5 separate regions of the Homo sapiens genome follow, and regions 1, 2, 3 and 5 are each linked to region 4. The links come from fine-mapping of genetic effects on gene expression. A gene starts in region 4. Each other region holds a variant in brackets. All regions are shown on one strand. Distances are from middle to middle.

Region 1 (4,115 bases), 51 kb before region 4:
TGGCCCACACCTGTAATCCCAGCACTTTGGGAGGCTGAGGCGGGTGAATCGCTTGAGCCTAGGAGTTTGAGACCAGCCTGGGCAACATGGTGAGACCTCATCTCTACAAAAAAACTAAAAACCAACAAAAAAACCCATTAATATAGCCATGGAAGAAATGAGCAGGTTGGGGGTTCTGTAAAATTTCCCAAACCCCGCTTATAAAGCCCCCAAATGATCAACATGGTAGCAGAGCTACAGGGCTCTGAAGAGGCCATCATCCCTCAAGCAAGTTAGATAATCTGGCTTAACTCTTCTATTTTCTTTATTTTTTTTTTTTTTTTTTGAGACGGAGTCTCACTCTGTCACCCAGGCTGGCGTGCAGTGGCGTGATCTCGGCTCACTGCAAGCTCCGCCTCCTGGGTTCATGCCATTCTCCTGCCTCAGTCTCCCAAGTAGCTGGGACTACAGGCGCCCGCCACCACGACTGGCTAATTTTTTGTATTTTTAGTAGAGACGGGGTTTCACCGTGTTAGCCAGGATGGTCTCGATCTCCTGACTTCGTGATCCACCTGCCTCGGCCTCCCAAAGTGCAGGGATTACAGGCGTGAGCCACTGCGCCCGGCCAACTCTTCTATTTTCTTTTAAGTCCTTGTGATAGATGTTCTGTTTTTGCTGGTTTGTTTTTCAAGCCTAAAATATAAACATGTCTAAGAGATGACTGTACAGATCACAATAGGACGTCCTTCGGGGTTCTTTTAAACCTGGGTTCTTAAGCGGGGTTTGCAGGAAAGTCCATGAAGCCCTTGAGATGATCACGTATGTCATATGTGCATTTTTCTGGGAGGAGAGTCCACAGCTTTCATCATTGTCAAAGGAGTTCACGACTTGAAGAGTAACGTTCACTATTTTAATTATAATTTTTTATTTTTTTGAGACGGAGTTTCACTCTTGTTGCCCAGGCTGCAGTGCAACATAGCGTGATCTCAGCTCACTGCAACCTCCACCTCCTGCGTTCAAGCGATTCTCCTGTCTCAGCCTTCCAAGTAGCTGGGATTACAGGCATGCGCCACCACGCCTGGCTAATTTTTTGTGTTTAGTAGAGACGAGGTTTTACCATGTTGGTCAGGCGGGTTTCAAACTCCTGACCTCAAGTGATCCACCCACCTCAGCCTCCCAAAGTGCTGGGATTACAGGCGTGAGCCACCATGCCCAGCCTAATTATCAAATTTTGGACACTGGACTTAACACTTCAATTGTTATAGATACAACTTTTTCAGACAGCAGGCTGAAGCACTTTCTAAAACAGCAGGCTGAAGGCACACCTTACTTAGCAGGACTGAGCCCTAAGCCAGGTAGAAGGCCGAGCAGGATAGATACATTCTTGTCTCAGAAAGTTCCACAGAGACAGAAAGAAAAACAGTCCCCAGAGATGTTGCCAAATGGCACGAAAAGCTGGCCAGGCCTGGGAACTGACTCACACACAGAGATGCAACAAAACAGTGTGAGGTGTCTCTGATTACATGATAAAAAGGTTCACACGGTTCTGTTTGTCTTCTGCCTCCCCCCATATATCACAACTTTCTCTGACTGGGGAAGGGTAAGTGGGAAACAACTGGTATAAGCAAAGGAAAATGGCTGGGCGCGGTG[G/A]CTCACTCCTGTAATCCCAATACTTTGGGAGGCCGAGGAGGGTGGATCACGAGGTCAGGAGTTCGAGACCAGCCTGCCCAACATGGTGAAACCCTATGTCTACTAAAAATACAAAAAATTAGCTGGGTGTAGTGGCGGGTGCCTGTAATGCCAACTACTGGGGAGGCTGAGGCAGGATAATCGCTTGAACCCAGGAGGCGGAGGTTGCAGTGAGCTGAGATCGTGCCACTGCACTCCAGCCTGGGCGACAGAGCAAGCCTCCATCTAAAAAAAAAAAAAAAAAAAAAAAAAAAAGAGAAGAGAAGTACTGCTCAGAGAAAAGAAGGAATTACCAGCAACAGGCTGGGCCCATGAAACTCTGAGCGGGTAAGATAGAGGGAAAGTGAGCATGCTGGGTCACTCTAGGCATTTTCCTCTGACTCATCAAACATTCCCAAGTCACAGGGCAGCTGGATGCTGGCCTTAGCTGGGTACAGGGCTCTGACTCCACGATGTCTCCTTTGGGGACTCAGGTGCCTCCTAAGCTCCTTCTGCCTTCAAGAGGCAATTCAGGGTCGGCATAGTTCAACCCAGGGCTGGCTGGTCTGATTTTCAATACCCAAGGAACAAAAGGAGACAGAGGCCATTTAAGGCTTCTCTTGGCAGAGACTGGAGGAGAGACAGGATGCAATGAGCAAGGGGTGGGGAGGATGGAGTGGAAAGAACCTTGAATTAGGAGAGCTCTGCCTTCCGAGGTGACCCAAACCAACAGGCATTCAAGAGAGAGGCAAGGGAATGACTACGGACCCACACAGTGCCAGGAACTGTTAGACACCTGACAAACGTCATCTGTTTAATTTCACCTCTGGGACCTCAGTTTTTTACCGGGAACCTGAACAGTTCTGGAACATACTGGAAGCCTGTATGCTGGTGGTTAATCCTATTAACTTTGGAGTCAAGACTCCTTTCCTGGAATTACCACCTCTGTTACTTACACAGTTGCGATCTCGGGCAAGTTACTTAACCTTTCTGCCCTCCACTTTCCCTACCTGTGAAATGTGGACAGTAGTAGATTATACTGCACAGAATTTATTAAATAAGGTAGAAAAGGCGCAGAGCCTGACACGTAGTAACGTTGTAGACATCCAATAAGTGACAATTATTTTTGTTTGGGGCTCCTCCCAGCTACTGAAATCACAAGTCTGGGAAGGGGTTCAAGAATCACCCCTAGGCCCCACCGGGGGCCCCATACCAGGTCCCCATGCAGACGTCCCACCCCCGCCTCCCAGCTGATCACAACCTCCCGGGCTCTCCCCCACGGCCCACCCACCTTCCTCCAACCCCGCCCCCAGCCGTTCCCCACCAACCTCACTCCATCAGTGCTCCCTCTTCAGGGGCTTATTCCCCACCACCCACCACCCACCGCCCACTTCCTCGACACCCGAACTTTGGTCCTCCAGGATCCTTCCGCAGTGTTTTCACCTCTCGGTGTTATTGACGATCACTCCGCCGCCCTCCGAGTGATTCTTGTTGAGCGCCATAGTCTCTCCAACAGGGGTCCCGAGACTCAAAACGCAATGAGCTTGCGCCCCTCTTCGCCCCGCCCCTAGTGGCGTCTTCTTATTAGAGTCAGCCAATCAAAGCTCGAGTGCGGAGGCTGGCCCAAACACCTGACCCGAACGTCACGTGGTAATAGTTTACTCCCTCCTTCCAGTTCCTCCTGCGCAACAAACAAGATGAAGACTACAATTCCCAGCAGGCAACGCCCCCGCAGCCTCGGCCTGTCCCTATGCTGGAGGAAGGATGCATTCTGGAACTTGTAGTCTCCTGGATCATAGGCCTGAATTGGTTCCACATTTTGCGTAACCAATCGGCTTGTGCCATCCCCACCCCGCCTCTTCAGCCGGACGGAAATAAACAGTTCCGCTCCTGGCAGGGGCGCGATCTTGGGGACTCCGGCAGCGCGTTAAGGGAAGTCCTGCTGGTCGAATGCGACCTGGACATGGCGTGGGAGCGCCGAGCTGTCCCCTTGTGGATGGGGAGCTTTCGTTCACTCAGCAGACGTTTATGGGGCGCATGCGTGACTCTGGGGCGTTTAGCTGAGCCGGAGGCCCCGGCTCTTGGGGACGCGGTGGGCTGGCGGCGTCGGATCACCCCGCCATCCATCTCACCACTCCCAGCGCTGAGCCCGGGGGGCGGGGAGAGTCCCTCATGGGAAGGGGAGGCCGTGTGCCCCGCCTGGCTCCCACCACGTTCGCAGGCCGGCCGGGCGCCCCTCGCAGCCCCCTCTCCGGCCTCGCGGTGGCGCCGCTCCCCCCTTAGCGCCCAGCGGGGTCCCGGCCGGAAGACTGAAGGCTGAGTGGGACTGGGCACGGCGCGAAACCGGCATCCTGATAACTAGGATTTACAGAATAAGGCTGACTCCTGTCAGCTCGTGACCCAGCCCTGGGCGTCCTCCACGGGGCAGCTGTCATTCCCTAACCGCCCCCCACCAAACCCCTGCACCT
Region 2 (4,115 bases), 930 kb before region 4:
GCTGTCATGGCCCTCCCTGGCACCCTTTTTCTGAGTTCAACCGTCAATCATCCAACAAACACTTACTGAGGCCAAGAGCAGTGGGTCACGCCTGTAATCCCAGCACTTTGGGAGGCTGAGGCAGGTGGATCACCTGAGGTCCCAAGTTTGAGACCAGCCTGGCCAACATGGTGAAACCCTGTCTCTACTAAAAATACAAAAATTTAGCTGGGCATATAAAAATAATAATATTTTTATTTTATTTATTTATTTAATTTTTTATTTTGAGATAGAGTCTCTCTCTGTCACCCAGGCTGGAGTGCAGTGGCGTGATCTTGGCCCACTGCAACCTCTGCCTCCCAGGTTCAAGTGATTCTCCAGCCTCAACCTCCTGAGTAGCTGGGATTACAGATACGCGCCACCACAACAGGCTAATTTTTGTATTTTTAGTAGAGATGGGGTTTCACCTTGCTGGCCAGGCTGGTCTCCAACTCCTGACCTCAGGTGATCCACCCACCTTGGCCTCCCAAAGAGATGGGATTATAGGCATGAGCCACCACCCCCGGCCTCTATTATAATTTTTTGTGTGTGTGTGAGACAGAGTCTCTCTCTGTCGCCCAGGCTGGAGTGCAGTGGTGCTGTCCTGGCTCACTGCAAGCTCTGCCTCCCGAGTTTATGCCATTCTTCTGCCTCAGCCTCCCGAGTAGCTGGGACTACAGGCGCCCACCACCACACCCGGCTAATTTTTTGTATTTTTTTTAGTAGAAACAGGGTTTCACCATGTTAGCCAGGATGGTCTCGATCTCCTGACCTTGTGATCCGCCCGCCTCGGCCTCCCAAAGTGCTGGGATTACAGGCGTAAGCCACCGCGCCCAGACTATTATAATATTTTTAAAAATCAAAAAAAGAGAGAGGAGGGAGGGAGGAAGACAGACACCTGATTTGAGTGAAATGTAGAGAGACAGGAGATACGCTTGAAGTGGACCAGGAGCAGACCATAAAGGGCTGCATACATCCTGATAAAAGGCATTAATCTTATTCCATGAGCAACAAAGAGCCTGAGAAGCAGGGGAGTGATGTCATGAGATGTCATTAGATCTTAATGAAGCCATCCTGGCTGCAGCAGGAGAGAGAAATGACCTGAACATGGGGAATCCAGCTGGGAGGTGAGAGCTGATGAGGGCTCAACCAAAGCAGTCACAGATAGATGGAGAGGAAGCAGGCAGGTGGTATTGACAAGGTGGAGTCTTGGAACTTGGTTTTCTATCTCATATGTGTTCTAGGTACCATTGCTGCATAACAACCTTTCCACCAAACTTGGTGTAAAACTATAACCATTTTATTATGTTCACAAATTCCATGGGTCAGGAATTCAGACAGGACTCAGCTGCGGTGGCTGGTCTGTGCTTCACAATGTCTGCGGTCTCAGCTGAGAAGACCAGAATGGCTGGTGCTGGGGTTAACTTGGAACAGCTGGGGGGCTGAAATTACCAGGTGGCTTTACTCATACATCTGATGCCTGAGCTGGCAGGACCCAAAGACTGGGTTCAGCTGGGGCTGAAGACAGACACACCAACGTGTGACCTCTCCATGTGGCTTGGGCCTCTCTCAGCAAGGACACTGGGCTCTGTGAGGGAACACCCAAAAGATGCATATGAAAATAGGAAGTGGACACAGTGGCTCACACCTGTGATCCCAGCACTTTGGAAGGCCAAGGCCGGAGGATCGCTTGAGCCCAGGAGTTCGAGACCAGCCTGGGCAACATAACAAGACTCCATTTCTATAAAAAATAAGAAAAAAATACTAGCCAGGTGTGGTGGCAATTACCTGTAGTCTCAGCTACTCAGAAGGCTGAGGCAGGAGGATCGCTTGAGCCTGAGAGGTTGAGAATGCAATGAGCTATGATCTCACCACTGCACTCAGCCTGGGTGACAGAGCGAGACCCTGTCTCAAGAAAAAAAAAAAAAGAGAGAGAGAGAAAGAAAAGGAAAGAGGGTGTTCAAGAGAACAAGGGGGAAGTTGCATATCTGTTCAGCATCCAGTCTGGGAGGGAAGTAACATAGAAAGTCACTTTCACCACACTCTATTGGTCAAAATAGTCACAAGGTCACCAGATTCCAAGGGAGAGGACCTCTACCCCACCTCTCCATGGAAAGAGTGTCAGAGAATTTGGTACCATATTTTATTTTTATTTTTATTTTTATTTTTATTTATTTTTTGAGATGGAGTTCTGCTCTTGTCACCCAAGCTGGAGCGCAGCGGCGCGATCTCAGCTCACTGCAACCTCCGCCTCCTGGGTTCAAGTGATTCTCCTGCCTCAGCCTCCCGAATAGCTGGGACTACAGGTGTGCA[C/A]CACCACACCCCGCTAATTTTTGTATTTTTAGCAAAGACGAGGTTTCGCCATGTTGGCCAGGCTGGTCTCGAACTACTGACCTCAAGTGATCTGCCGCGTGCCTCAGCCTCCCAAAGTTCTGGTATTACAGGCATGAGCCACCACGCCTGGCCCATGTCACCCTTGGTGCCTCTCTTCCTGCTACCAACCCCCCACCAACCCCAACCAATTCATCACCAAGTCCTATGGTGTTATCCATCAAACATATATATTGTATCATCCTACGGCCCTTCATCTCCCCCGCCCTCACCTTTGCCAGGGTCCCATAACCTCCCACCTGTAGCAGCCTCCACTCATCCCCTCTCCCACCTACTCTCTGCAGAACAGCCCAAGTAATTTGAACATGGAGCTCACATCACTCCCCCATGAAGACTCCTCTGAGCACTGCGTCAGGAGCAACCTCCAAGGCCCCGCAAAGTCTGAGCCTGCTTCTCCTCCCTTCAGTCCCTGGGTTCCACCCACGTGGGTCTTCCTTCATTTTTCTCAACCACTCTAAGTCTTTCTGCCCAGGATCTTTGTATAGTTTGTTCCTTCTGCCTGGGACATCCCTCCTCCCACTCCTCATGTGACTGTCCCCTTTTCGTCCTCCAGGGTCTTATCTTAAAAGTCTCTTTCCGGCCGGGCGCAGTGGCCCACGCCTGTAATCCCAGCACTTTGGGAGCCCGAGGGGGGTGGGGGTTGGATCACGAGGTCAGGAGTTCAAGACCAGCCTGGCCAAGATGGTGAAACCCATCTCAACTAAAAATACAAAAATTAGCCGGTTGCGGTGGCAGGTGCCTGTAATCCCAGCTACTCGGGTTGGGGCGAGATCATTCAGCTACTTAGGAGGCTGAGGCAGGAGAATCACTTGAACCTGGGATGCGGAGCTTGCAGTGAGCCAAGATCGTGTCACTGCACTCCAGCCTTGGTGACAGAGTGAGACTCTGCCTCGAAAAAAAAAAAAAAAAGTCTCTTTCCCTGAGAGATTTCCCAGCTCCACCATTGTTACTTCAGTCCCCCATGTTCTTAACACTATTGTAAATATTTTTGCTTTTTTTTTTTTTTTTGAGACAGAGTCTCGCTCTGTCGCCCAGGCTGGAGTCCAGTGGCGCCATCTCGGCTCACTGCAAGCTCCGCCTCCCGGGTTCACACCATTCTCCTGCCTCAGCTTCCCGAGTAGCTGGGACTACAGGCGCCCGCCACCATGCCCGGCTAATTTTTTTTGTATTTTTAGTAGAGACGGGGTTTCACCGTGTTAGCCAGGATGGTCTGGATCTCCTGACCTCGTGATCTGCCCGCCTCGGCCTCCCAAAGTGCTGGGATTACAGGCATGGGCCATCGTGTCCAGCCTATTTTTGTCTTTTTAATTGTTTGACATCTGTCTCTTCTACTGAAATTCAAGCTTCCCGTGAGCAAGGACTGAGTCCGTTTTGTTCTCTGTATCCTCAGCACTCAGCACCATGTCTAACACATCATAAATATTTATTGGACAAATGAATGACAATAACTCCTGGGCTTCCAGCTTGGGTGATTACAGGAGGAGGAGCCAGTTGATCACCCACTTTAGTCAATAGGAATGACACATTTTGGCCAACTCTTTCTCAGATTTATCTTTTTTTTTTTTTTTTTTTTTTTTTTTGAGATGGAGTCTGTCGCCCAGGCTGGAGTGCAATGGCACAATCTCGGCTCACTGCAACCTCTGCTTCCTGGGTTCAAGCGATTGTCCTGCCTCAACCTCCCTGGTAGGTGGGATTACAAGTGCTCG
Region 3 (4,104 bases), 76 kb before region 4:
GTTCTTGGCTCCAGGCTTCCTGGCCTGGATGCTGGCAGCCCCTGGGGAGAGGACCCAGGCCCCCTCTAGTAATGGCCACCACCCTCCCCCCAGGGCAGCTGGAGCCTCATCTTTGGCAGGGTCCCCTCTCCCTTTTCCAGGAGACTCTGTGCCTGTAGCCCTGGTCCCAGTGAACCTGGCCCCCACCCCAGTGGCTGGAACAGGAAGGCCAGGAGGCAGATGGGCCAGGGCCAGGAGACAGATGGCCCAATCCCCTGCCCACCACAGCAGCTTTTCTGAGAGGCGGGCAGGGGCAGGGTTTGCTCCCCCTGGTGCTGGGATGTGGTAGAGACATTGCAGCCAGGGCTGGAGGCAGGGAGGCGGGAGTAGAGATGTCGCTGCTGAGCCCCCATCACCATGGGAGGCAGGGGAGGTCTGCACTCTGGGCACTCCGCATGCTGGGGCTCCCCAAGTGTTAGGCCAGGCTGGAGGGCCGCGATGTGGCGGGGAAGCCCCAGACCCTACAGGAAAGCCCTTGCAAGTCCCCACCGGGGACCCAGCCCCACCGCAAACCTCTACGGCTACGGTGCCGGCCGCAAGGCATGCTGGGAGGCCTGCTTGGCCCGGTGCCGCCGCAGCCTCACAAAGACCTGGGCTTCTCGGTCACCCTTCCGGCCCTCCAGCAGCTGCAGGATTGGGTCCCCTGCGGAGAGAGGGGTTTGGGGGTCAGATGCCAGGGGAGAGGGCAGTGCCTGGTGGTGGCAGAGAAGAGTGTGTGGGGGGGTACACAACACTGCTCCATCTCCCCAACAACCTGGAAGGAAACAAGTGACAGACCCGCGCCAGCCCAGCCCAGGAGGTGGTCTGACAGACGCATCCGGTCGGGTCGCGTAACAGACAGAGTGCTGCTGGGACACTGTCCTGACTGCAGCGAGGGGCTGAGATGTGCCTGAGGTTTGACTATTACCTTTTTATACGAGAACCTAAAGCTAGCAAGTTAACCTTTTCATGCCTCGGTTTACTCATCTGTAAAAGAGTGCTAATATCTGCTTCGTTGGCTGGAATGCATAAAGTGCTTAGCACTTGCTCATAATAAGTGCACAAGCATCAGACCGTTGCTGGTATCAAAAATGCTCTGCAGGGAAGCGGCCCCGCCGAGTGAGATCCAGGCCCTTCTCCCCAGTTAAACTTCTTGGTGACTTCCCCATGCAAGGAGAGTCACGTTACACTTAGCTTAAAGTTCACTGGTCTCTTGATTAGACCGAGAGATGGGCCGTGGCTGTCCCACTGGCTCCCGTCTCCAGGGAAGCTGTTCTCCGACCCTGGCATCACCTCTCTGGGGCCCCTGCCTGAGCTTTACAGGCTCCCGTCCCCGCACCACCCTGCCCTGGGCTCAGGCCTACCGTTGGGTGCGGGGTACGTGAGGGGCAGGCGGGTCTGAGGCACCTCACCAGGCTCCTCAGAGCCACTCAGCCCGGGCACCTCACGCAGCGGCAGGAAGGCCTCGCCTTCCAGGTCGTCGGCCCCCAGCGTGTCGTAGTCCAGCACGGTGAGCAGGAGGCATGCCCCAGCCTTGCGGCACGGCTCAGCAGGCACCAGGCTGCGGGGAGAGTCAGGGCTCTGCTGCCAGCCCCAGCACAGCCACCCCAGCCTCGGCACATGGGTTCACCCACTTGGTGTTGGGAACCAGCCAGGGTTTGGACTGCAAAGCCAGCTCTCAGCCTGGCACCTCTCAGCCATGTGGTGCAATGCCTGCTCTGACCGTGGGCTGATGCTTTAAACCAGCGGTCCTGTGTTCCCTGTTCACCTGTGCTGAGGAACTAGGAGCAGGTTACTGAGAACCTCAGAGACAGGACCCTTCCCTGGAAGTCCCTAAGTTAAACACCTGGGAGTCCACCCCTTCCCCCAAGGGAAGCAAACTTTTTTTTCTGAGACGGAGTCTTGCTCTGTCACCTAGGCTGGAGTGCAGTGGCGCCATCTTGGCTCACTACAACCTCCGCCTCCCGGGTTCAAGTGGTTCTCCTGCCTCAGCCTCCCGAGTAGCTGGGACTGCAGGCGTGTCCCACCACACCCAGCTAATTTTTTGTTTTTAGTAGAGACGGGGTTTCACCATGTTAGCCAGGATGGTCTTGATCTCCTGACCTCGTGATCCGCCCGCCTTGGCCTCCCAAAGTGCTGAGATTACAGGCATGAGCCACCACGCCTGGCCCTCTTTTTTTTTTTTTTTTTTTTTGAGATGGAGTCTCACTCTGTCGCCCAGGCTGGAGTGCAGTGGCACCATCTCAGCAGCCTCTGCCTCCTGGGTTAAGCAATTCTCCTGCCTCAGCCTCCCGAGTAGCTGA[G/C]AGTACAGGTACCCACCATCATGCCCGGCTAATTTTGTATTTTTAGTAGAGACTGTTGGCCAGGCTGGTCTTGAACTCCTGACCTCAAGTGATCCGCCTGCCTCGGCCTCCCAAAGTGCTGTGATGACAGGTGTGAGCCACCACATCCAGCTGCAAACTCTTGTCCCAGATGCCCCATCCCTTGGGCCCAAATGTGGCCATCTCAGGGGAGCCCCTTGGCCCCAGCCAGGAGGAGCAGGCCTGAGGGAGCCCAGTGGGGAGAGATGAGGGGAGGGACTGGGAGAAGAACGGGACCCACTCACAATTCAAAGGTCTCATCAAACAATGGGTGAAGGTCCTTCTTGTGCTTCTGGGTCTCCCGGGCGGCCAGCTCAGGGAACTCATGCCTGGGCTCCAAGGTCAGCTGGACAAAGGGGTCGCTGGAGCCTGGTAAGTGGCCGGGGAGTGTGCGTCAGCTGAGGGTCTCCCAGGCACCCCACCCCAGCAGCTATGCTCTGCTCAGCGGCACTGACCCCTCCTGGTAACTGGAGGAAATGCACCCAGAGCTCCTGCAGGGTGAGCGAAGCCCCCAGGGTCGCTGAGACAGGAGGGCCAGGACGGGACCATGGAGAGTGGCCAAAGGCAGCCTCCACTCACCATTGGAGTCCAGGGGCAGCAGGCTGGAGGCGCTGAGCAGCTCCACACGCAGCTTCTGCTCAGAGGCGCGGTAGGAGGCCTTGACTGTCACAGCCCCCAGCTCCTCAGAGGTGGTTTCTGCCTGGGGTGGGGAGCAGGGGCAGGGTCAGCAGGGTCACAGCGGGAGCGGGGTGCTCCAGGGCCTGCAGAGGGCGCAGTGCGAGGGAGGGGCCTCACCTGCTGCTGGATTCGGCTGCAGAAGTACTTCCGGATGAGTTCCCGGCTGGAGGCCGCCTGCAGCTCCAGGTCCCTCTGCAGAGCCTGGGAACACATACAGCTGAGGATCCACCTGGACTGCACGCCCAACCACAGCCCAGGCCTGCCCTCCAGGAGCTCACTGTCAAGGGTAACATGTCCGTTTGAAATGGAAAGTATTGGGTCATGGGACAACGGGCTGGGGCCACCCTCAGGCCAGACAGACAGCAGGAGAGGCACAGACAGGGCTGGCTTCACAGGCGTGCTTCCCCGACCCCACCCCCCATGCGGGCACACAGGGCCCCTGTGCTTAGGAGGACCCAGGCTTGGTTTCAGGTTCTGTCGTCACCGTTCTAAAATTTGTAATAACTTTTGAATAAGGGGCCCAGTTTTTCATTTTGTACTGGGCCCCATAAATTATGTAGCCGACCCTGGACATAGGTGAGTGCCAAAAGGCAGGCTCCCCAGACTTCCTACGGGGAAGCTCACCCAAAGCCCCTACCTGGAAGGTGGCAGTGTGCAGGGCCTTGGGTGGCAGGCCACAGCCCTCAGCGTGGAAGCAGATCTCCAGGTTCTGGGGGAGATATCAGAGGTGACCCCAGGCACCCTCCCACCAGGGTTATCATTGCTGTGACCGGTTCTGTTACCTGCAGGGCAATCTTCAGCCTGTTGGAAGCCAGGGATGAGCTGCGCTGGGAGGCGGCCGCCTCCACCAGCACTGTGAGTGTGTGGGTCCAGAGCAGGGTCAGGAGGCTGGGGCGGGGCCGGAGGGATGCGGACACAGCACGGCAGGGCGGTGGCGGAGGAGGAAGCAAAGACGCTCTTGAGAAAGGGGCGGCCTCAGTGACCCAGCCCCACCCCAGCTCCTCCCACCCCCAACCTCCCCCTCCGCCTCCCACCCCAGGTGAGGCTG
Region 4 (4,111 bases):
CAGAAGCAGGAAAATCGCTTGAACCCAGGAGGCAGAGGTTGCAGTGAGTCATCGCACCACTGCACTCCAGCCTGGGCAACAGAGCGAGCCTCTGCCTTAAAACAAAACAAAACAAAATAATAATAACGAAAACATACTGAGCCCTCATCAGAGATGGCATTAGGCAAAAATGCCAATGAATTGCCTCTTTTAATCCTCACAGCAATTTTGTAGCAAAGACACAATTATTTTATTTTACAGTTGAAACAAGCTCAAGGACATTATCCGAGAGGCTGAGCTAGGATTTAAATCGGGCTATTTAGATTCCACGCTTGTGCCTTTAACCACCACAAAACTGCCTCTATAAATGCTAAAGAAAAGAAAAGAAAAGAAAAGCATATACTCCATAAATTGTAAGTTCCTTAAAGGTTGGGGTCTTTTTTTTTTTTTCTTTTTGAGACGGAGTTTCGCTCTTGTTGCCCAGGCTGGTGTGCAATGGCGCGATCTCGGCTCACCGCAACCTCTGCCTCCTGGGTTCAAGCGATTCTCCTGCCTCAGAGGCCTCCCGAGTAGCTGGGATTACAGGCATGCGACACCACGCCCAGTTAATTTTGTATTTTTAGCAGACACGGGGTTTCTCCATGTTGGTCAGGCTGGTCTCGAACTCCCGACCTCAGGTGATCCGCCCGCCTAGGCCTCCCAAAGTGCTGGGATTACAGGCGTGAGCCACCGCGCCCGGCCAGGTTGGGTTCTTTTTTGAGTCACCCTGCCCAGGCCTTTAATTTCATTCAGCAAAGTATTGCACATGTACATCCTTGCACTGTTCGGGTGCAAGGATCCAATGGAGGGCAAGACAAGCAGGATCCCTGTCAACAGGGCGCTTACAATCTGGGGAGAGGCAGCGCACAGTCAGAATGCAGTGTGGCCAGAGTTACCTACAGAGTATTTGAGGCGCACAGAACGGCATCCCAATCCGGAAAGTCAGGTGGTCAAGATTTTAGGAGCAAATATTTTAGGAGCTGGAACTCTAATAGTAGGGGGAGCGAATTTTCCAAGAATGAGGTGCAGAAGGTGTGAAAAATCCTGGGGTGATTAAGCTGCCGATAGCGCACACAGGTCTGCAGGCAGGCCCTCCCAGCGTCCCCAGCATCCACAAGGGCGCCGGCAAGGCTCGCCCAGCGCCCGGGGAAAACGCCGGCGGGTCCCGAGTTCCCCGGGCGGTGGCTGCAGCCCCTGCTCCAGTCGCCCCGCACCTGTCTTCTCCCCGAAATACTCTCGGTAGGTCCGCCACCAGTGCGGGGCCTGCGCCTCCTGCTCTGCTCGGCGCCGGTAGCGGTCGAAGCTCCGGTACTTCTCCAGCCGCTCCAGGTTGCTCAAGTCGATGTCACTGTTGGGCATCGGCCCCAGCGGGGGTGTCCGGCGGCCCAGGACGGCTGCGGGCAGAGAGAAGACGTAAGGCCGGCGCCCCACAGCTCGGGCGACAGCCCCCCCCCCCCCCCCCGCAGAGCTGCCCACCCCTCACCCGAGGTGCTGAAGCCCCGCCATCTCCGACACTCGCACAGCGCGGCTCGCCACCAGGGCGCCGCCATCTTCCCTCCGGCCTGCGACACTGCGGCCGCCACTAGGACCCGGGCACAGGTGGCCAGCGCGGTGCCTGAGCGCACCACAGCAGGCCCCGCCCCTAGGCCCGCCCCCGGGCCCGCGCTGCGGAGCAGGCCTCAGACGCCTGTCCCGGAGGCCCCTGCACCGTCTGCCTCGGGCGCAGGTGGAAGGTGGCCGCGGTCTGTAGACGCCCGGCTCCGGAAGTGCCCGTTGGACGGCGGGGCGGAGCCGAGAGCAGTCATATGCTCGCCCATGGCTGGCCACCAGGGGGCGGCACAGACCGGGGTCGGCCGCCGGGGCCCTCCTCCAACCCCTGGACGCTGCGTCCTGATTTCCCCAGGGACGCAGGCCTGGTTGGGAGAAGGGGTGCGAGCTCCGATTCCGGACTCTGCTTGGGTTTAAAACCCAGATTGAGGGCTGGGCGCGGTGGCTCACGCCGGGAATCCCAGCACTTTGGGAGGCCAAGGCGGGTGGATCACGAAGTCAGGAGATCGAGACCATCCTGGCCAACACGGTGAAAACCCGTCTCTACTCAAAATACAAAAATTAGCCGGGCGTGGCATACGCCTGTAATCCCAGCTACTCGGGAGGCTGAGGGAGGAGACTCGCTTGAACCTGGGAGGCAGAGGCGGAGGCTGCAGTGAGCCGAGATCGCGCCACTGCACTCCAGCATGGGCGACAAAAGTGAAAACTCTATTTCAATAATAATAATAATAATAAAATAATAGTAATAAAAACCCAGATTGTGGCTGGGCGCGGTGGCTCATACCTGTAATCCCAGCACTTTGGGAGGCCGAGGTGGGCGGATCATCTGAGGTAATTAGTTTGAGACCAGCCCTACGAACATGGCAAAACCCTAAAGATACAAAAATTTTTGTATCTCTACTAATGATACAAAAATTAGCCGGGCGTGGTGGCAGGCGCCTGTAATCCCAGCTACTCAGGAGGCTATGGCACAAGAATTAACTTGAACCCGGGAGGCAGAAGCTGCAGTGAGACGAGATTGCGCCACCACCTCGGTGCCAGAGTGAGACACCGTCTCAAAATGCCCCTCCCCCCCCCCAAAAAAAAACCAGATCGTGACCTTACTGTCTTCCTTGTGGTTTCCTCATTTGGGAAAAAGCAGGTTAACACTAGTGCTTACCTGACAGCTGTCAGGATGAAAAGATTACCCTCTGGAAAGCGCTCGCAGTGGTTTGTGTGTTAGCTCAACTATCTCCAACTTCTCATTATCCACACAAAGGCAGAAGTGACCTGGTTAAGTGCAGATGTGAATGTTTCTGGCAGGACTCAGGCTTGCCCTTGTGATCCAGTTCTACCATGGCAAAACTTGGTAGCCTGGGGAATCTGGGACCCTCCTTTGCCCCAGCCCTGGCCCTCCTGCCCTAAAAGGCAAGACTTTTCCATCGCACTTTGCCTCCAGGCCACGGGGCCTTTGTATACGCTGTGTCTTCTGCCTCTCACCTCCTCACTGCCCCACCTTGGCCTGGCCACCACCCAGCCCCAGGAGAGGGGTCTCTCCAGGAAGCCTGCTCTGACATCCCAGGCCAGGGCTGGTGGTGACCAGGCCAGTGGCTCTGGCACCAGCAGAAGCTTGACCCTCACAATCACTTTGAGATGGAATGAGAATGGAATGAGGGTCTCTCCATCCAGCAGGAAGTGGCCACACCTTCCACTGGTTTTCATAAACAGCAGCCAAACAGCTAAACCTTTCACAGTCATTTCTAATCCACCCAGCAGTGTGCACCTGCTACATGCTAAGTGTGGAGGGGAATACGTGGGGCAGTCACACCCAGTCCTGCTCGTAAGGAGTTGCTTATTGTGACATTCCATACTGCAGTTATGCAGTACAGGAGCATAACTGGATTGTGTGTTTACATCGTGGCTGTTTTACCTTGTCCTTTTTTTTTTTTTTTTTGAGATGGAGTTTCTGTCGCCCAGGCTGGAGTGTAGGGGCACGACCTCGACTCACTGCAACTTCCGCCTCCCAGGTTCAAGTGATTCTCCTGCCTCAGCCTCCCGAGTAGCTGGGATTACAGGCATGCACCACCACGCCTGGCTAATTTTTTGTATTTTTAGTAGAGACTTGGTTTCACCATATTGGCCAAGCTGGTCTCAAACTACTGACCTCAGGTGACCCACCCACCTCGGCCTCCCAAAGTGCTGGGATTACAGGTGTGAGCCACTGCACCCGGCCACCTTGTCCTTTTGTTTCTGAATCATTTTCTTCAGCCTCTAAACCCACCCGCTCTACCCCACGACCCTCCCAGCCCTCTCCAGATGAAGATGTATGGGGCCTTGGCAGTTGGCGTGGAAGCTGCTGGCCACCCAGGTGGCGGTGCATTCCTCCATTCTTGTCCTCTTGCTGTCCTAGAACCCTGATTGGCGCTTGCTTGGATATTAACAGTTTGAGAGAGGCTTCACGTGGATTCCCACGTGTACCAACTTGAAGCAAATAACGATGAATATCTTGAAACTAGAAGCAGTGGCTCTACCATTTTAAAAAAATATATGGGGGTCTCACTATGTT
Region 5 (4,115 bases), 100 kb before region 4:
GGGAAAAAAAAGACAAAAAAACCCAAGTGTAGAGCAGAGGTCAGCAAACCGGCTTGCATGCCAAATCCAGCCTGCTGCCTGCTTTTTTAAGGCCCACAAGGTAAGAATTGTTTTCACTTTCTTTTGAGACAGGTCTCAGTCTATCCTCCTGGCTGGAGTGCAGTGGCACAATCTTGGCTCACTGCAGTCTCGACCTCCCAGGCTCAAAGAATCCTCCTGCCTCAGCCTCCTGAGTAGCTGGGACTATAGGTGTGCACCACCACACCCGGCTAATTCTTGTATTTTTTTGGTAGAGACAGCGTTTTGCCACATTGCCCAGGCTGGTCTCCAATTCCTGAGCTCAAGCGATCCACCCGCCTTGGCCTCTCAGAGTGCTGGGATTACAGGCATGAGCCACTGTGCCCTCCCTTCACATTTTTTCAATGGTTGAAAAGATATTTCGTGATGTGACGATTGTATGAATTTCAAAGAGTCCCTAAATAAAGCTTCCTTTGGGCTGGGCGCGGTGGCTCATGCCTGTAATCCCAGCACTTTGGGAGGCCGAGGCGGGCGGATCATGAGGTCAGGAGATTGAGACCATCCTGGCTAATAAAGTGAAACCCCGCCTCTCCTAAAAATAAAAAAATTAGCTGGGCATGGTGGCGGGCGCCTGTAATCCCAGCTACTCGGGAGGCTGAGGCAGGAGAATGGCATGAACCCAGGAGGCAGAGCTTGCAGTGAGCTGAGATCGCGCCACTGCACTCCAGCCTGGGTGACAGAGCGAGACTCTGTCTCAAAAAATAAAAAATAAATAAAATAACGCTTCCTTTGAACCTGCACTCATTCGTTTCTCTGTTGTCTTGGCTGCTTGTGCACTTCAACTACAGACTCAAGTAGTTGCAACAGGAGACTGACTATATGTGATGCTCATTGCTTCTCATTGCTGCACGTGTCAGCATACCACATTTTTTGTTTTTTTTGAGACGGAGTGTCACTCTGTCGCCCAGGCTGGAGTGCAGTGGCGTGATCTGGGCTCACTGCAAGCTCTGTCTCCCGGGTTCATACCATTCTCCTGCCTCAGCCTCCTGAGTAGCTGGGACTACAGGCGCCAGCCACCACGCCCGGCTAATTTTTTGTATTTTTAGTAGAGACGGGGTTTCACCATGTTAGCCAGGATGGTCTCGATCTCCTGACCTCATGATCCGCCCGCCTCGACCTCCCAAAGTGCTGGGATTACCGGTGTGAGCCACTGCACCCAGCCAGCATACCATGTTTTATACGTTCTTCATCACCAGTGCATACCTCTTATGTCAAAAGAAGAGAGGAAGAGAAAAATGCACTTCAAGTATTTTACTTTTAAGGCTCGGTGGCATGTGGATTATTTGTTAACACATTTGGTGGCAAAGCACCCAATAATAAAGATAGCTGTGACTGGGCATGGTGGCTTATGCTTGTAATCCCAGCACTTTGGGAGACCGAGGCAGGAGGACACCTTGAGCCCAGGAGTCAAGATTGCAATGAGCTGTGATTACACTACTGCACTCCAGCCTGGTAACGGAGTGAGACCCTGTCTCTTTATTTAAATAAAGAAGGAAATATTCCTTTAAAATTTATTTTTCCTTTTTTTTTTGAGATCACTCTGTCGCCCAGGCTGGAGTGAAGTGGCATGATCTCTGCTCATTGCAGCCTCCACCTCCTGGGCTCAAGCGATTCTCCTGCCTCAGCCTCCTGAGTAGCTGGGACTACAGGCGCCCGCCACCACACCTGGCTAATTTGTATTTTTAGTAGAGACGGGGTTTCACCATATTGGCCAGGTTGGTCTTGAACTACTGACCTTGTGATCCACCCGTCTCAGCCTCGCAAAGTGTTGGGATTACAGGTGTGAGCCACTGCACCCGGCTCCCCCCAGCCTTTTTTTTTTTTTTGGAGACAGAGTCTTGCTCTGATGCCCAGGCTGGAGTACAGTGGTGCGCTCAGCTCATTGCAACCTCAACTTCCCTGGTTCAAGTGATTCTTGTGCCTCAGCCACCCAAGTAGTTGGGATTATAGGTGTGAGCCACCACGCCTGGGTAATTTTTTGTATTTTTAGTAGAGATGGGATTCTCCATGTTGGCCAGGCTGGCGTCAAACTCCTGACCCTAAGTGATTTGCCCGCCTTGGCCTCCCAAAGGGCTGGGATTACAGGAGTGAGCCACTGCGCCTGACCTAAAAATTTTTTTCTGACCATTGCTTGCTTTTCTGGGAATCTTGTGATAAGTGCTTTGTCTGATAATGCTGATGGATTTTTTCAGCACAGATGTCTTTTTTTTTTTTTTTTTTTTTTTTTTTTTTTTTTGAGACAGGGTCTCGCTCTGTCACCCAGGCTGGCATGCAGTGGTGCAAC[C/T]GTAGCTCACTGCAACCTCAAACTCTTGGGTTTAGTGATCCTTTCACTTCAGCCTCCCAAGTAGCTGGGACTACAGGTGCATGCCTGGCTTAGTTTTTTAAAAAAATGTTTTAAAACTGTTTTAGTGATGGGGTCTTGCTATGTTGCCCTCAAACTCCTAGGCTCAGGTGATCCTCCCACCTCCGCCTCCTGTGTTGCTGGGATTACGGGGATGAGCCACTGCATGCAGCTAGGAATATTTCCTTACAGCAGAATTTCTTCACAAGAATTAAAACTACATTTTTGTAGTTTCAGTTGCAGGCTACAACTGAAGCAGGTTTCTGAGTGGCTCATTTGTTAGCTAGGCAAGGAAAGCCATTTACTGATGTTGAGTTAATTAAATTGTGTTTGACTGCAGCAGCTGGAGAAGTGTGTCCAGATAAAACACATTTTTGTTTGAGAGTGTTAGCTTTTCAGCAGGAACAGTGTCTCAAAATGTTGAGGACATTAGGAGCAATGTCAGTAGTCAATTAAAAAAGAAGGCCGGGCACCATGGCCCACACCTGTAATCCCAGCACTTTGAGAGGCCAAGGTGGGCGGATCACGAGGTCAGGAGATTGAGACCACCCTGGCCAACATGGTGAAACCTCGTCTCTACTAAAAATACAAAAATTACAGGCCGGACGCGGTGGCTCACACCTGTAATCCCAGCACTTTGAGAGGCCAAGGTGGGCGGATCACGAGGTCAGGAGATTGAGACCACCCTGGCCAACATGGTGAAACCTCGTCTCTACTAAAAATACAAAAATTACAGGCCGGACGCGGTGGCTCACACCTGTAATCCCAGCACTTTGGGAGGCCAAGGCGGGCACATCATGAGGTCAGGAGATCAAGACCATCGATCTCCCAACACGGTGAAACCCCGTCTCTACTAAAAAATACAAAAAAATTTAGCTGGGCATTGTGGCAGGCACCTGTAGTCCCAGCTACTTGGGAGCCTGAGGCAGAAGAATCACTTGAACCCGGGAGGCGGAGGTTGCAGTGAGCCTAGATCACGCCACTGCATTTCAGCCTGGTGACAGAGCCAGACATCATCAAAAAGAAGGCCGATTTCATGTGGTTTTTCCTGGCTGTCGGTGAGTCCACAGCTAAGAAAACACTAATTCAGTACAACCTAAAGTGTAATCTGCTAGTATCTTTTACAGCTGGTGGTGGTAAAAATATGTGTACAGCGGAAGAATAATTGGACAAATTTACAAAACTTGTGAAAATGTAAGGTGGTTTATTCATTGTGTTATTCATCAGCAGGTACTTTGCAGAAAATATCTTAATTTATCATGTGTTATTGAACTCTTAGCATCAGTAATTTTACTTGGTTTTGTGAATCATCATCAGTTCCATAAGTTTTTGTCAGAAATAGAAGCTGAATATTCTGATGTGCCCTGCCGCGCAGTAGTTTGATGGCTTAGCAGTGGTAGTTTTCTTTCAACTTTTTGAGCTCAGGGCTGAGATTGAAAATTTTCTGAATGAGGAGAATCGCTCCCAACCACTATTGAATGCTGAATGGCTTTGGAAATTAGCTTTTGCTGCAGACTAGGTAATGTTTGTTAATGAATTCAACCTAAAACTCCAAAGTAAAACAGTGCTTATGCAAACCCTATGCTTCAGGGAAGTCATGTTGATGACAGCAAATGTTTAAATCATATGTCATGTTAAACTGCCTTGTATACTTCCTGTGCTGGCAAAAGTGAAAACAAAGGCAAGCTCTCCATTC

The links.
Region 1: its variant is fine-mapped to the expression of MRPL38 in whole blood (TOPMed, PIP above 0.99).
Region 2: its variant is fine-mapped to the expression of MRPL38 in cerebellar hemisphere (GTEx, PIP 0.98).
Region 3: its variant is fine-mapped to the expression of MRPL38 in whole blood (TOPMed, PIP above 0.99).
Region 5: its variant is fine-mapped to the expression of MRPL38 in whole blood (TOPMed, PIP 0.97).

Annotation. Positions count from the first base shown.
Region 1 is chr17:75,852,149-75,856,263 of GRCh38, forward strand. WBP2 (WW domain binding protein 2) reads right to left here and starts at 3,187. Exons shown (of 8, transcript NM_012478.4): 1 at 3,091-3,187. The coding sequence starts at 3,149. RefSeq lists enhancers at 3,273-3,402, 4,011-4,115 and a silencer at 3,773-3,942. The variant G/A (reference allele first, on the strand shown) is at 1,630.
Region 2 is chr17:74,976,963-74,981,077 of GRCh38, forward strand. No RefSeq gene overlaps it. Among named protein-coding and RNA genes, the nearest start is that of HID1, 6.3 kb to the left of the region's middle. The variant C/A (reference allele first, on the strand shown) is at 2,332.
Region 3 is chr17:75,827,405-75,831,508 of GRCh38, forward strand. It overlaps UNC13D (unc-13 homolog D), which reads right to left. Exons shown (of 32, transcript NM_199242.3): 26 at 3,839-3,944; 27 at 3,694-3,765; 28 at 3,174-3,257; 29 at 2,958-3,078; 30 at 2,624-2,747; 31 at 1,383-1,579; 32 at 1-682. The coding sequence ends at 561. Among named protein-coding and RNA genes, the nearest start is that of UNC13D, 15 kb to the right of the region's middle. RefSeq lists enhancers at 2,345-3,333, 3,004-3,298, 3,334-4,104. The variant G/C (reference allele first, on the strand shown) is at 2,322.
Region 4 is chr17:75,903,308-75,907,418 of GRCh38, forward strand. MRPL38 (mitochondrial ribosomal protein L38) reads right to left here and starts at 1,577. Exons shown (of 9, transcript NM_032478.4): 1 at 1,502-1,577; 2 at 1,233-1,412. The coding sequence starts at 1,568. RefSeq lists silencers at 1,373-1,422, 1,443-1,492, 1,503-1,982.
Region 5 is chr17:75,799,963-75,804,077 of GRCh38, forward strand. All of the region lies in intron 1 of UNK (unk zinc finger), which reads left to right. Among named protein-coding and RNA genes, the nearest start is that of UNK, 17 kb to the left of the region's middle. The variant C/T (reference allele first, on the strand shown) is at 2,363.